Linked DNA regions of Homo sapiens. The gene in region 2 interacts genetically with the main gene of each other region. Each region holds a gene or a part of one and is shown on either strand. Other genes may lie near its edges.

Evidence for each region. Genes that interact genetically often act in the same process or in processes that back each other up.
Region 1: changes in BAZ2A (region 2) and HAPSTR1 together harm fitness less than expected from each alone (positive genetic interaction), as found in Homo sapiens cells (one large-scale study listed by BioGRID).

What each region holds. Positions count from the first base shown.
Region 1 is NC_000016.10:9,101,644-9,105,143, forward strand, and holds part of HAPSTR1 (HUWE1-associated protein modifying stress responses 1), read left to right. Parts: intron 1-1,340; coding exon 1,341-1,616; exon of another isoform or gene 1,617-3,500. UniProt on the Homo sapiens protein: Acts as a central player within a network of stress response pathways promoting cellular adaptability. The E3 ligase HUWE1 assists HAPSTR1 in controlling stress signaling and in turn, HUWE1 feeds back to promote the degradation of HAPSTR1.
Region 2 is NC_000012.12:56,599,327-56,602,826, reverse strand, and holds part of BAZ2A (bromodomain adjacent to zinc finger domain protein 2A), read left to right. Parts: coding exon 1-114; intron 115-634; coding exon 635-1,281; intron 1,282-1,424; coding exon 1,425-1,647; intron 1,648-1,728; coding exon 1,729-1,884; intron 1,885-1,994; coding exon 1,995-2,146; intron 2,147-2,336; coding exon 2,337-2,626; intron 2,627-2,709; coding exon of another isoform or gene 2,710-2,730; coding exon 2,731-2,863; intron 2,864-2,978; coding exon 2,979-3,125; intron 3,126-3,468; coding exon 3,469-3,500. UniProt on the Homo sapiens protein: Regulatory subunit of the ATP-dependent NoRC-1 and NoRC-5 ISWI chromatin remodeling complexes, which form ordered nucleosome arrays on chromatin and facilitate access to DNA during DNA-templated processes such as DNA replication, transcription, and repair.

The sequences.
Region 1 (3,500 bases), on a different chromosome or scaffold from region 2:
AGTAGGCCTTATTATAAAGTTCTGGTTGTTGTGCTTCCCTCTTGCCATTTTCTTTAATAGTGCAAATTCAGCTTGGCATCCTCTGTGATGTCTGGATGATTTTTTTTTTTTTTTTCTGGAACATAGCTTTACATTGTTTGACTATTGCCCATCCTTTGAGAGTCTGCTGTAGATGTAGCAGACAAGAAATTAAAGCCGCCGGTTGCAGTGGCTCACGCCTGTAATCCCCAGCACTTTGGGAGGCTGAGGCAGGCGGATCACAAGGTCAGGAGTTGAAGACCAGCCTGACCAATATGGTGAAACCCGGTCTCTACTAAAAATAGAAAAATTAGCCAGGCATGGTGGCGTGCGCCTGTAATCCCAGCTACTCAGGAGGCTGAAGCAGGAGAACCCTGGAGGCGGAGGTTGCAGTGAGCTGAGATCGAGCCATCGCACTACAGCCTGGGCAACAGAGAGACTCCGTCTCAAAAAATAAAATAAAACGAAATAATCAAAGCCGGGAAAAGTAATAGAGAAATGTACACAGTATTGTTGCTTTTACGGAAAGTTCAAGGATAAAGTAACGATGTTGGTTAATGCCATTAAAGACATACTGGTGATGTTCTGCTGGCACAGCAGCTCAATTAAAACTAAATAATAGTCACTTAAATTTTCAAATTTTTTTTCAACTAAATGAAACCACTAAAAGGTAGAGATCATTTTACCAAAACCCAGGTGGAGTATATGCAGAGAATTTAGTCTAGGAGATCTGTTGGGAATGGTTGAGTTACAGGAAGCTGTTGAGAACTGGAAGCAAAATGAGTATACCCAGGGAAATGAATAAAGCTTTTTGTTTTCCACCATGCTATTTGGTTTTAGTGTTGAGCCATCAGTCAGAATTAATTTTTCCTTCTAAAACATTTGCTGCTGCCTTCAGCTTGTTCCTCATTCTTGGTGCTGAATCTGTCAGTAGGAATGTATCTCCACAATGACGTGGTAAATGCAGATGAGCGTGGCCTGAGGCATGTGCAATATTTAGACATCTGTTGAATGATGTGATGCAAGTTATTTTAGGTAATTTCATTAAAGATACCTAATCTCTCTGTTTCTGTTAAATTTTTTTTTTTAACAAGCCAAGCTCCAGGACTGTGATAAGTAAACACTGAATTTAGACCATTAAGATTAAATGTTACATATAACATTTTCATTATGACTGAAATCATTTCAGTTTATATTACTGATGGGCTCAGAGGCCACATCATGGTATTCACTTTGGTTAAATTGTAAAATGGTTTTCTTTAGAAGGGAATACGGGCTCTAATGGTCATGATACATGTTTTCTTTTTCTTTTTTTCTAACAGAAAGCGTGGATACCCATCAACGAAGTTTTGATATTGGAATTCAGATTGGCTATCAGCGACGCAATAAGGATGTGTTGGCTTGGGTTAAAAAACGCAGAAGAACTATTCGTCGAGAAGATTTGATCAGCTTCCTGTGTGGAAAAGTTCCTCCACCACGAAACTCTAGAGCTCCCCCAAGACTGACTGTAGTGTCCCCTAACCGAGCTACTTCAACGGAAACTAGCTCATCTGTAGAGACTGATTTGCAACCCTTCCGGGAAGCCATAGCTCTGCATGGTAAAGCCGTTTAAACATATTTCTTTGGAAAAATGGTTAAGAGGGTGCCTGTGGACCCATTTTTCACGGTTAGGTTTAGGTCCAGATATACTGTTTTTTGTCTTACAGTAAACAGCTTGCTCTAGAAATGTTTAATAGAATGTAAGCTAAGAACTTAATATGGGCGATTTCTGTCAGCTAACCTATCCTAGAAAATGTTTTTAGAAAGTTAGTTTGAGCTTATTGGTGTTAAAATGACATATCTTTCTGCAGTGTTGATTAGAATTTATCGCTTTACACTTATGTGTTGTACGTGTTTTTTTCCTCTTCTGAAGTCAAAGAGGAAGTTCTTGTGTCTTAAGAATTCTGTTATATTTCTAATGGTCCATGACAGGCAAGTAAGGTGGGAAATTGTTGGGTTAGTTCTCATGGGACCTGGGACCTCCCTTGACACCTTTCTTACTTGGTTTGCTGTAGATGGTGGGAGAGGATGGATGTAAGACTTGACCTTCTGCCTGTCGTCCCTCAGGTCCCTTGCACTTTAAGAGGCAGGACCAGCAGAGTGCAGCCAGTGGGCAGGTGGATCTCTATCTCCCCAGGCCAGACCTGTCATAAGAAGGCACTCTTGGCTAAGGGATTTTAGTATTGCTGGAGAAACCCGGGAAATGTAGTCAGTGATAAGTCTGTTGTTGCTTGTTGCTGTCTAATACAGACTTCCAAATAGAGCTGGGAGAGTTAACCTGTGTGACAGCATTGAATACTGCTGTAGGAAAAAAAGCAACAGAATAATAAGACTTGCTTGAAACCATGATGGAAAGATGGATCACGCAGATGGCTAAGCAGGTAGAAGTAATTAGGTCATGAATCCTTTTTTTCTTTTTTTTTTTTTTTTGGAGACGGAGTTTCGCTCTTGTGGCCCAGGCTGGAGTGCATTGGCGCGATATTGGCTCACCGCGACCTCTACCTCTGGGTTCAAGCGATTCTCCTGCCTCAGCCTCCCGAGTAGCTGGGATTACAGGCATGTGCCACCACGCCGGCTAATTTTTTAGAGACAGGGTTTCACCGTGTTGGTCAGGCTGGTCTCGAACTCCCAACCTCAGGTGATCCGCCCACCTTGGCCTCCCAAAGTGTTGGGATTACAGGTGTGAGCCACTGCGCCTGGCCATGAGTCTTGTTGAAAGTTAACATTTTTGGGCCATAGTACAGGTCATCTAAAACAAAGTAACCTGGTAAGGTACTAAGAAATAGTGGCATATAAAGAAACTTTATAGACGTTGAATCATTGAGACTTTATAATACCTGTAGAGATCTTGTTCTCTCTGGCAAACCGTAGTTCTTTCCTGAAACCCCAATGTTGTTTTTTCCCTTGATAGTGTTTAGGACAATTAAAAACAAAAACATGAATTGCAGGAAAGTTCAGGTTGTGTGGATGCAGTACTTTAAGACTGCACACTGTTCCTGACACAGTGGAATAGTTAGGCTGTCAGAACTTTGGAAGCTCAGGCAAAAATGGGATTGATCTGTTTATGCTGAATTAGAGAGTTTCACATCTTTCCCCCTAAAGTTTGGGAAAACAATTAACTAGAGGTGTACATAGTTTGTTAGATTAATTTTAGCGCATGGTAATATTTGATGCAGTTGTCTCTCCTTAAGTATTGTGATTTTCTTCCTTTATTAAGAGGGTTGTGGGTCATTCCATGCTTCTCTTAAGGTATCTTTTTACTCTGTTTTACTGTTATATTTTAGAAGATAGTTTTAAGAAACATAAAAACCATGCTTGTTATCTTAACGTAGTAGTAGTGTACATAATAGTAAAAAGGGCAAGCCAGCCCCCTCTGCCCTCGAAAAACTGTATTCTCCAACTCCCACTACATTTTCTCATATTGAATCTGTTCCACCTGTGAT
Region 2 (3,500 bases):
ACTCATCCCAGATGCTTCGGGCGGTCTCCCTGGGTCAGGACCGCTACAGACGTCGCTACTGGGTATTGCCGTATTTGGCTGGTATCTTTGTAGAAGGAACAGAGGGGAACTTAGGTAGGTGTGCCTGTGGGAGTGTGGATTCTGAGTCCTATCAAACAAGAATTAAATAATTCCTTTTCCTTAGTAGTCTTGGGCTTCTTTCATTTTCTGATAATATAGCGTAATGGTTAAGAGCACAGATTTTAGAGTAAAGCTGCCTACCCACCTGCTCTGCCATTTCCAGCTGTATGATTCTGTTTCTTCATTTGTGAAGTTGAGATAATAATAGTGTATGTACTTCATAAGGCTACTGAGAGGATTAAAATGAGTTAAGTCTCTTAGAATAATACTTAACCCGTAGTTGTTTCGCAATAAATGTTAGCTTATGATTGTGCTGCTGCTGCTGATTACTTGGGAGAATAGTGTTTCTTCCCCAGATACTGTGTTCATTGGCATATAAGCTCTTCCCAGTGGAATCTCAAAAAAGGGGGACTAAGTCCAAGAGAAAAAGAAAGTATAGGTCCTAAGTTTATATACCCTCTTACTTTTCCCTTGTATGTCAGCATATGGCTTAACTCTTTACTTCTCTTTACAGTTCCTGAGGAGGTGATAAAGAAGGAAACTGACTCCTTAAAAGTGGCAGCCCATGCGTCACTCAACCCTGCCCTCTTCTCTATGAAGATGGAGTTAGCTGGCTCCAACACCACTGCCAGTTCTCCTGCCCGGGCCCGAGGCCGACCTCGAAAAACTAAGCCCGGGTCTATGCAACCTAGGCATCTTAAGTCCCCTGTCAGGGGTCAGGATTCAGAACAGCCCCAGGCCCAGCTTCAGCCTGAGGCTCAGCTTCATGCTCCTGCCCAGCCCCAGCCTCAGCTTCAGCTTCAGCTTCAGTCCCATAAGGGGTTCCTGGAGCAAGAAGGCTCCCCTTTGTCACTGGGTCAGAGCCAGCATGACCTCAGCCAGTCAGCCTTCCTGTCTTGGCTGAGCCAGACTCAGAGCCATAGCTCCCTGTTGAGCAGCTCAGTCCTCACACCTGATAGCAGTCCGGGAAAACTAGACCCAGCTCCATCACAACCCCCGGAGGAGCCAGAGCCTGATGAGGCAGAATCCAGCCCTGATCCTCAAGCACTCTGGTTTAACATCTCAGCCCAGATGCCCTGCAATGCTGCCCCCACACCGCCCCCTGCAGTTTCTGAGGACCAACCCACTCCCTCCCCTCAGCAGCTTGCCTCCTCCAAGCCAGTAAGTAGCCAGAATTAGTAGTATGCACTTGATTTCATCTTGCCACAGGCACCATTGCCTGGGTGTGGAGCTGCTGCCTGAAGTTGAGGGAACCTATAAACATGAAAACATCCTCATTTCCTTATGTCTCATTTTATTCACAGATGAATAGACCTAGTGCTGCCAACCCTTGTTCTCCAGTGCAGTTCTCTTCCACGCCCTTGGCTGGGTTGGCCCCTAAGAGGCGAGCAGGAGACCCTGGAGAAATGCCACAGAGTCCCACAGGGCTGGGACAGCCCAAACGGAGAGGGAGACCTCCCAGTAAGTTCTTCAAACAGATGGAACAGCGTTACCTAACCCAGCTGACAGCCCAGCCTGTCCCACCTGGTGAGTGACCTTGGAGTGAGGGCATCCGGTGTGGGCAGTGCTTCACAGCTGGCGCCCCACATATATCTCATCTGCTCACAGAGATGTGCTCAGGCTGGTGGTGGATACGAGATCCTGAGATGTTGGATGCCATGCTCAAGGCCCTACACCCCCGAGGTATCCGGGAGAAGGCACTTCACAAACACCTTAACAAGCACAGGGACTTCTTGCAGGAAGTCTGCCTGCGGCCCTCAGCTGGTAAATACATTCCTACACCCAGCTTGAGCTGAAGAGCCCAGGATAAGCATTGAGCTGCTGCTAGGGACAACAGCCTGATGGGCCTCTCCCTCTGCCACCTCTCTTCTCAGACCCCATCTTTGAGCCCAGGCAACTACCTGCCTTTCAAGAAGGGATTATGAGCTGGTCCCCCAAAGAGAAGACATACGAGACAGACCTAGCAGTGCTTCAATGGGTAGAGGAGCTGGAGCAGCGGGTTATCATGTCTGATCTGCAGATTCGGGTATGCTGGGATTGGCACTGTGTAGGAAGGTTGGGGAAAAGCATTAGTCCCTTATGCCCTGTTAGAAAAAACCCTGGGTCCCTACTTCACAGGTGACCTACCTTAAGTGGGTCTTGTTTTTGTTTTTTTTTTTCCTATGCCAAATTTTCCTCCTTTTACAGTGAGTTTTATTCCTCTCTCTTAACTGAAGGGCTGGACATGTCCTAGCCCAGACTCTACCCGTGAAGACTTGGCCTACTGTGAGCACCTCTCCGACTCCCAGGAGGATATCACCTGGCGAGGTCGGGGCAGGGAGGGACTGGCACCTCAGCGTAAAACTACCAACCCTTTGGACCTGGCTGTGATGCGGCTGGCTGCCCTGGAACAGAATGTAGAACGGCGGTACCTGCGGGAGCCCCTCTGGCCAACTCATGAGGTTGTGCTGGAGAAGGCCCTGCTTAGCACACCTAATGGTGCCCCTGAGGGCACCACTACAGAGATGTGAGTGACTCCCACCCTCCATTCTTGGTCTTGGAGAGAAAGGGATAAGTTCCCTCTTTAGTGGATCCGCTCCTTCTCCAAAGATCACCACTTTCTCCCTCCAGATCATATGAGATCACCCCTCGCATTCGTGTCTGGCGCCAGACCCTCGAGCGGTGCCGGAGCGCAGCCCAGGTGTGCTTGTGCCTGGGCCAGCTGGAGAGGTCCATTGCCTGGGAGAAGTCTGTCAACAAAGTGGTAAGAGGCTGAGAGAGCCTGGAGAGGCTGAGGGGCCAGCCAGCAGGGGCGGGGTGGGGTCACTGGCAGGTAGAGGCTGGAGAGCTCATTCTGCCTCCTCACAACCTTGGTCCAGACATGTCTAGTCTGCCGGAAGGGTGACAATGATGAGTTTCTTCTGCTTTGTGATGGGTGTGACCGTGGCTGCCACATTTACTGCCATCGTCCCAAGATGGAGGCTGTCCCAGAAGGAGATTGGTTCTGTACTGTCTGTTTGGCTCAGGTAAGGCTTCTGCTCTTTCTTTCCCACACTCAAACAGAAATCAGAGATTATCCTCAATCTCTCCTCTCCTTGGAAAGAGTCCTAGACTGGGTATTAGGGGACCTGGGTTCTAAGTCCTTTTTTGGACAAGTCACTTAAATTCTATAGCTTTAATTGCTGTCTCTATAAAATGAGAATAACTATACCTTCCCTTTTACCTACTTCATTGGGTTATGTGAATAAACCAATGCCGGCTTATGCATGATAGTATTTTGAAGCCTTAAATCATATTTAGGCAGAGATTGTAGTAGGGCAAGCAGTGCATCTCCAGCTGTTGCTAATCTCACCTGTTTCCTATACTAAGCAGGTGGAGGGAGAATTCACTCAGAAGCCTGG